Homo sapiens: one gene and its partner. The protein of the gene in region 1 interacts with the protein of each later gene in a biochemical or structural test. Each region holds a gene or a part of one and is shown on either strand. Other genes may lie near its edges.

Region 1 (3,817 bases):
GAAGTGACAACTAACCACTCCAGCATCTCACTTGCAGGATATCTTGTACCTGATCTGTCAAAAACTACATGTACTTGTTTCTTCCACTTCTATTCCTTCCAGGCAAGGTCCATACTTTAATTACTTGTCTGTTCCCTCTGCATCTTGGCACAGGTCCCTATATCTCAAAAGTTTTAATTAGACCCCAATCCCAGAGACAATTATGCTGACCTTTCTCTTCTGGCTCTGACCCATAACCTACATTTTTTTTTTCAACCCAAGCAATGCTAATAAGTAGAAAAATTCATAGGTTCAGCAGAGGACTTTGAACCTTTTTGCTGTGCCTTGTTCTAAAGTGATCAGCAGGAACTGAGTTTTACTAATAGGAGAGAAGCAACACAGTTTCTTCTCTCTCTCCCCCATCTCTTCTGAATCCTTCTCATGAAATTAAAATACCAGAGGAGACAGCTGATCATTTCCACAGGCAGAAATGCAACTTCCTCCTTGCTAGAGAAGAAAAAATAGTTACTCCTAAACAAGATTGCTTTCTTATATGGAATAGTAATCTCAAAATAGGAATGTTGTTTAAGCACCAATTACAAAATAAAGAGGAAGAGTGAGCTGCTTCTCTACTCTGGTGTATATTTTGTAGCTGCAGGGTGGTATACAGAAATCTCTTGGACACAAGGGGAAAGGAAGGAAGCATGTCCACGGGGCACCTCCGAGACACCAAATTTCAACCTTTTTGAATTCCCTTTGTGCCCAGATGAAGAGATGAAATGACAAATATAACAATTTCTCAATAACTAAAATGTCACTCGCCATGCTGCTTAATAATTTTTAAAGCAAATATTATAATCTATGTTCCATCTCAGCAGCAGAACACCTAGTTACTCAGTTGATTTCCCTTATCCTATCACATTATTTGTATTCCCTCGCTCAGGTCTGTGCCAAATGAGTGCCTGTAGACACTCCCTCTTGTGGCCACGGCCCCTACTCAGCTGCTGCAGCCCCTCCCTGCTGCGGTCCTGGGTGATGGCCTGCTGACCATCTGCCTCCCCTGCTAGAAATCCAGGAAGGCGAGGGCTTGAGCTATATGCTCAGCGCTGAGCAAAGTGCCCAGCAGAGACAAGGCTCTAGATCATGTCTCACTGAATGCTTTCCAAAGCAGATTTACTCTGGAATCAGCAACATCAACCCTCTCAAAATCTCTTGCCTCTTTCAGTTATTTTATATGTTCCTGGGTACCATGACTAAAACCAAGAAACTGCTAACAGGGGTTTTGGGTATGATGTTTTTCCAACGTTTGGGAGGGACTAAGAGGTGGCTTTACTTGAGAAAATTCCTTTCAGATTTGAGGATTAAACACTTGGTCCAAGAAGAAAAGGACCTGGCTGTTGGCTGAGCCCTGGAACAAAGCACAAAGCTCCCACGGCTCTCTTCCCGTCTCCCTCCACCCGCAGGGAGGGAAGTGGGTAATCTGGAGGAGAAGAGGAAAAAGAGGAAGTGGGCCAGAGAAGAGAAGTCTGATGGCCAGTTTTCCTCCAGTGCTACGCTAACTCGGTGTCACAGCTTTTCCAAAGATTGAAATACGAAGTTTTTCTGTCCTAATTTCTTAAGACACAAAGGAAACAAGTAGATAGAAAAATAAATAATATTTAAATGTTACAATCATATTAAAGATATATGCTGGGAGTTAATTATTATTTCAATTTTTCACTGTGATTTCCCAAACTTTAAGGTTCCCAAGGAACAGTTTTTGCAGAAGAGTCTTGGGGAAAAGTCCAACTACTATGCCAGGCACTGAAGAGTAAATGAAAACACTTTTTAAGCAACTGGCCTGGGAAGCCTAAATGAGAAGCCTTTCCTTCCAACGTGTCCTTTCTCAGCACTGTCTTTACATGTTCACATGGGAATTACTTCAGAAATGTCATTAACAATATAATGACACCTATAACCCCCAACCCAAGATTTTGACTAATTTACACCTACAAGATGACTTCAGTGATACATGAAATAATTCACAGAGCACACGGACTGGTATTTAGTATGCGACCCTGCTGACTGTTAGTTCAAAAAAAGAACTTACTTGGGTGCTGATATGAGAGGGGCACAGCAGCTGCAGCAGCGTCCACATGAGACATATCCCCGGCAGGAGAAAGCCCGCCCATTTCCAACTGCCTTGGCATGTTCCCTGCAGCTGCATGAGGCACAATTGTCCCATGAGTCCTTAATAATAACACCAAGACAAAGAAGGGCAGTGCAGTGTGGGGGCAACTGACTGGAGCACGGGAACTGAAGCCAAAGTAACTGGGTGCGCCCTTTCCTAACAGGATTCTATGAAGTTCCCAACATAACCACTTGGCAACGTATTTGCTTGTCAGAGTGTTCTCGTAGTTGAAAGAATTAACTTTGTTTACAAAATGAGATTCGTTACCCAACAGGAAAATCAACCCAGTGACAGTGAAGAATTCAATTGGCTTGCTGATCATCATTTGAATTCTATTAAAATATCAATGATTTAACACAAAGACTTTAACAAATATTTACAAAATTTACCAAGCCCTCTCATTTAACTGTTCAAAATATTAACACTTTCAGATTTGAAGATGAAGTTTACAAGGCTAACCAATAGCTTATATGCAAATATAAAGATTTCTCAAGCTGGAAAGAACCTTAGAGATGATAGGCTCTACATGCTTATTTTACACTTACAAAGTGGCTACAAAGTAAGACAGTCTAAGGCAGGGCCATAGCCAGGACACCAGTTTCTGGACTCTTAATATTCTTTTATCTCTATTCTTTTACTAAAAATGAGGTTTTCTAAATCTGAGGCAATCAACTGAATCAGTATATTTAAAAAATAACATCCTTAGGCCGGGCGCAGTGGCTCATGCCTGTTATCCCAGCATTTTGGGAGGCCGATGCAGGCGGATCACTTGAGGTCAGGAGCTCAAGACCAGCCTGGCCAATATGGTGAAACCCCATCTCTACTAAAAATACAAAAAAACTAGCTGGGTGTGATGGCATGCACCTGTGGTTGGTCCCAGCTACTCGGGAGGCTGAGGCAGATGAATCACTTGGACCTGGGAGGAGGAGGGAGATTGCAGTGAGCCAAGATCGGACCACTGTACTCCAGCCTGGGCAACAGAGAGAGACTCCATCTCAAAAAAATAAAAATAAACATTCTTGTATTCCATCAAAGGAAAAAATAAATAAAAATCACTTATTTAAAATCTGATAAGTTAATAATTCATTTATAAGCTTAGCTCAAACTCTGAAATTATTAGTCATACTGAAATTTTTAAAAAGTAAACACACACATGAAAATCATCATGGTAGAAAAATGAGGTGATACATCTGTACTTGTGGTTGTATCACAAAATAATAATGACCCAATTTGTAACTGCTTTTCTTTTTAAACCAATGGATACGTTTCACCAAAACTAAGCTTTCTAGATTTTCAACATATAAAAACTGGTATTTATATTTGAACTTACATTCAAAAGATGATTCAAACTCCTCATTATCCTTAAAAGCTAGCTTGTCCACATCTGAAAATTCACTTTTGTCTTGAAGTTCAGTTTGTCTTCGATAAAGACTAGATTGGAAGGATAAAACTCGTGAAGTTTCAATAATGGAAAACCAAAGAGTACAAGGTGACAAAAAGCCTTTTGTGACTCAAGAAAAGGCTCTACAAAATTCCCTTTCTCTTTGTCTTGTAAATAGCTCCACCTCACCACCACCACTAGGCATTGTTCTCAGCAATTAATACCTGTTTAATCAGTTACTCCTTGTAACTATTTCATGCTGTGAAGTAGGTACTACAGTTGTTAAT
Region 2 (3,817 bases), on another chromosome or scaffold:
CACCTGCATCCTCCTGCGGGCTCCTAACAGTGCAGTCAGCAAGAGGAAGAGGCTGGTGTTTGGTCATTTATTCAGCATTTAGTGATCACCTGTTGGTTACCAGGCCCTGAGACACAGAAGGGCTCACTAAATGCTGAATAGCTAAAGGCAGCAAATGTTTCCTGTCTGGTCCTCAAAACTGCCTTGCCAAGTAGGAGGGAACTCAAAACCGAACCCCAAACCACAGAAAACCCAGAGACCCAAAGTGACAAATTAACCAAGCTGGTCAGTGATGGAGCAACACAGTTCCTGACTTCTGACTCCCAGCCCAGCACTCTTCTCAGGTCAAGGGCTCCCAGGAGGTCAGTTTGGGGATGGCCATTTCACCAACCAAGGGGACCTGTTGGTCCAAGATGAGTCTTCAGTAATCTCTTGACCAAAGCTCCAAGGAACAAAACACCCACGGATCAAATTTCAAGTCAGAAAACAAACTATTCCCTAATAGTGACTATTCACTATTTCCTAGAAATGTCATATAGTGATAACATCCTTTCCTGCACTTTACTAGCCAAGGCATAAGTATCCATCTGTATGAGAAGCAGACAACAGTACCAGCTCAAAGCTAAAACACTGTGGCTTTTGCTAAGCAGGGGGAAAGAAAGAGCTTTGTTAGGCTTTCTGAAATCCTGTAAAGGGCTCATAGAACACTCCTGCCCTCCTGCCATTAACACCCAGAAAATCCCAGGTGTGAGCCCACTGCTGGAGTGAAGCCATGGAGGAAGCTGGCTAGCTCAGGGCCAGAGGCTTGGCTGGGATAAGAAACAATACACATGAAATCATCTGTGACTAGAGCATTTGAATGGGAACAAAGGAGTCCCTCGTAGCTCATGTCGATGTTAATTGCTGAACATTACAGATAGAAAAGGACCGTCTACCTCAAGAAAGGCAGCAAGACTCTGACAATTCATTCCCAGATCTCCACACACATACAAAAGGGCTAATGTGCCAGATCACCCAGGCATCGAGGCAGTACCTGGGGCCGCGCATTAGCCACATCCAAGTCATGCAAGGTCACATCTTGGATGATTTCTTTCTTTTTGTGCACATCCCCTTTTGGCAAGGGGACATACTCTTCAGCTTCAAGGTCGAATTCTGTGGCATAGGTATCACACCTGCCCTGCCTCTGCAAAAAGAGAGAAACATGAGTGCCTGGTAAGTTTTCACTGCCAAGTCCCCAAATGGCACAGGGCTAAGTGAGATAAAGGTCTCAGTTCCCACTGCAGGCCTGACAGCCTACTTGACAAACTCCAAATATGCCCCACTCCCCTGCTGCCAAGAGAAGGGAGCTATCTGCTCATCGCTGGGCTCCAAAAACTGGGTTGAAAAACACCTGATACTTTCTCCCAAAATCCTTTTTCCCTTCTTTCTTTTAACTGTATGCAATTCCTGATAAAGGCCAAATCCAGTAGATTAACTGGAGGCAGAGGAGCTGCTCAGACTCTTTTGTAGGTGGATGATTTATTGTATGATATGAAGTATTATGCCCATCCATTAAACAGTGAGGAACACTGTACAGGACCCTGAAAATCAGATAGAAAAGAATGCCAACGAATGCAGCGTTCCTTCCCACATGCATATATCTTGGGAAGAAAATACCAAAGAGATAAAAGGAAGATTAAATACACTGCACATTTCAATTTGAAAGTGACTAAAGTTGTTTTGGTTTCTCACCCTGTCCTCCCCCTCTGAACAGGTTTTAGTATTTTTTCTAACAGACTATCTGTTTTAATCGCGAGAAGGTTAAAGAATGAAGATAAAGGGAAGGCAAACTTTATTATACATAAAGGGCCACTAGTTGACCTTCCATCAGCCTCATAACAGACACCAGCCCCTCCCCACACACCCCACACCCTCTGAAGAAAGCAACTCCCTTGTCACTTAGGTCTTCTCATGGCAAACAAATCAGGGACAATGCTGTGTCCCAAGGAAGGCATTACCTTCACGGCCCCACTGTTGGCTTCAATGTAAATCACATCTCCAGCTTCTACTCGCTCTTTCTGCAAACTTTCAAAAATGCTGGGGTCCAGCTAAAAAAAAAAATGTAAATCAGAAGTGTAATACATATTCCATTTCCTTCTGACACCATGTAAGGTACCTTTCCGTAAGGGATCTGAGGTAGCTAGCAGGTGCATGGAGAAAGCCTGTTTTGCGTTTGCATGAATACTGGGACCTGCAGGAGTGTGAATGCATAAGTACCACACAACAGACTGGCTGGGGGACTAAGCACACCAGGGAGAAAATAGGGGGGCCAGCATACCTGCATCCCTATGTAACGAGCATGAGAGGGACACAGGGGACACGTACTCTCCTCTTTCCCTTGATTCCAAAGGCTGTAAACTGGCAGCAGCGCTTTTATAAGGATGGTCCTGGCTGCCGTGAGACGGGTGGGCCCAGCCCCCACTGTCCACAGGACCACAGGCCCTATCACCCCTCTTGAAATCATCATCCCTACTTCACTCCTTCATTTGCCTCACCTCAGGTGGGGTGGAACTTTCCACAACTGAAGTACCTGCCAGCACCTGCTTACCAATCTCAAAGCTGGCATCTTGCAGGGCCTTTGATTTTGGATAAGGTTCTCAGTTCTAAGTTTCCTCATCTATACAACAGCACCCAGGTGCAATCACAGATGTATACAGTAATTCAAAGAAAAACATAAATGAGAATCTTTCCCAAGCCTTTTGACTCACATCCCAGTGTTTGTGCCCTTGGGTCTGCCTGCTTATATCTCCAGGAAAGGAAATAAGCAGATTTGCGGAACTGTTGCTTTTCTCCAGATTCTGGTGACCCTCAGTGATTAATATTCTAGGACAGCTGCCTTTGTAAGGATTCTATAGTTAAACACAAGTTTCTCGAGGTCTTCATGGAGATCTATGTTATACAATGTAGCTATGGTGGAAAAAAAACTTGGGCTTTGCCCAAACAAAATTAAAAAGTGAAAACCCAGGACTTGGTGAAAGAAGCCAGATACAAAAAAAGACATACACTGTATGTTCCATTTATATGAAATGTCCAAAAGAAGGCAACCGAAAGTAGATTAGTAGTTGCCGAGGGCTATAGTTGGAATGGGGAATGACTGTAAATGAGTAGGAGGATTCTTTTTGGGGCGATGAAAATGTTCTGAAATTAAGATTGTGGTGATTGTACAACTGTGAAAATAAATTAAAATTCCTGGAATTGTATACTTAAAATGGGTGAGTTTTATTTAAAATGCTATCTGAATAAAGCTTTTAAAAAACTACCACCACAGCAGCAAACCCAGGGTTCTGCCTCTCCTTAGCTGGGTGGGGACGGCAGACCCTGGCAGAACTGCTGTGAGTCTGTGCGCCTAAGGACAAAAGTGGGTGAGGCCCCCAGGTAAGGCCTGGCAGGAAGGGGTCATGAGTACTAATGGCATTCTCGTTGCTAGAACTCAGAAGACTCCTTCAGACTTGAATATCCACCAAGTATTTGAGCACCTTCTATCCAAATATCTTGTACATATTCTAAAAATACCTAAAAGTATTCATTTTGGAAGAAAAATTTCATCTTCTCCTCTACATTATTTTTGTAAAGAAACTGTACAAAGCAGTGTTACAAATAGCTGAAATTTAAACTGTACGCCTTATTTTATCTGTCCTACATTGGAGAATATACTTCTTTTTTGCCTCAAGCATTTTTATATCGGTTAATTTCCCAAATGAATTGACTGAAGATGTAATTACTGGAAAGGTGGCAGATGCTACTGAGAAATCTAATTAATTCAGAATGGAAGTGACGAGGGGTAGGTATAAAAGAGATA

Evidence for each region.
Region 2: the proteins of OFD1 (region 1) and RUVBL1 form a complex in vitro, tested with the Homo sapiens proteins (one study listed by BioGRID).

The regions. Positions count from the first base shown.
Region 1 is NC_000023.11:13,762,107-13,765,923, reverse strand, and holds part of OFD1 (centriole and centriolar satellite protein OFD1), read right to left. Parts: intron 3,581-3,817; coding exon 3,480-3,580; intron 2,209-3,479; coding exon of another isoform or gene 2,207-2,208; exon of another isoform or gene 2,180-2,206; coding exon 2,069-2,179; exon of another isoform or gene 2,065-2,068; intron 1-2,064. UniProt on the Homo sapiens protein: Component of the centrioles controlling mother and daughter centrioles length. Recruits to the centriole IFT88 and centriole distal appendage-specific proteins including CEP164. Involved in the biogenesis of the cilium, a centriole-associated function.
Region 2 is NC_000003.12:128,099,583-128,103,399, forward strand, and holds part of RUVBL1 (ruvB-like 1), read right to left. Parts: intron 2,067-3,817; coding exon 1,977-2,066; intron 1,163-1,976; coding exon 1,013-1,162; intron 1-1,012. UniProt on the Homo sapiens protein: Possesses single-stranded DNA-stimulated ATPase and ATP-dependent DNA helicase (3' to 5') activity; hexamerization is thought to be critical for ATP hydrolysis and adjacent subunits in the ring-like structure contribute to the ATPase activity.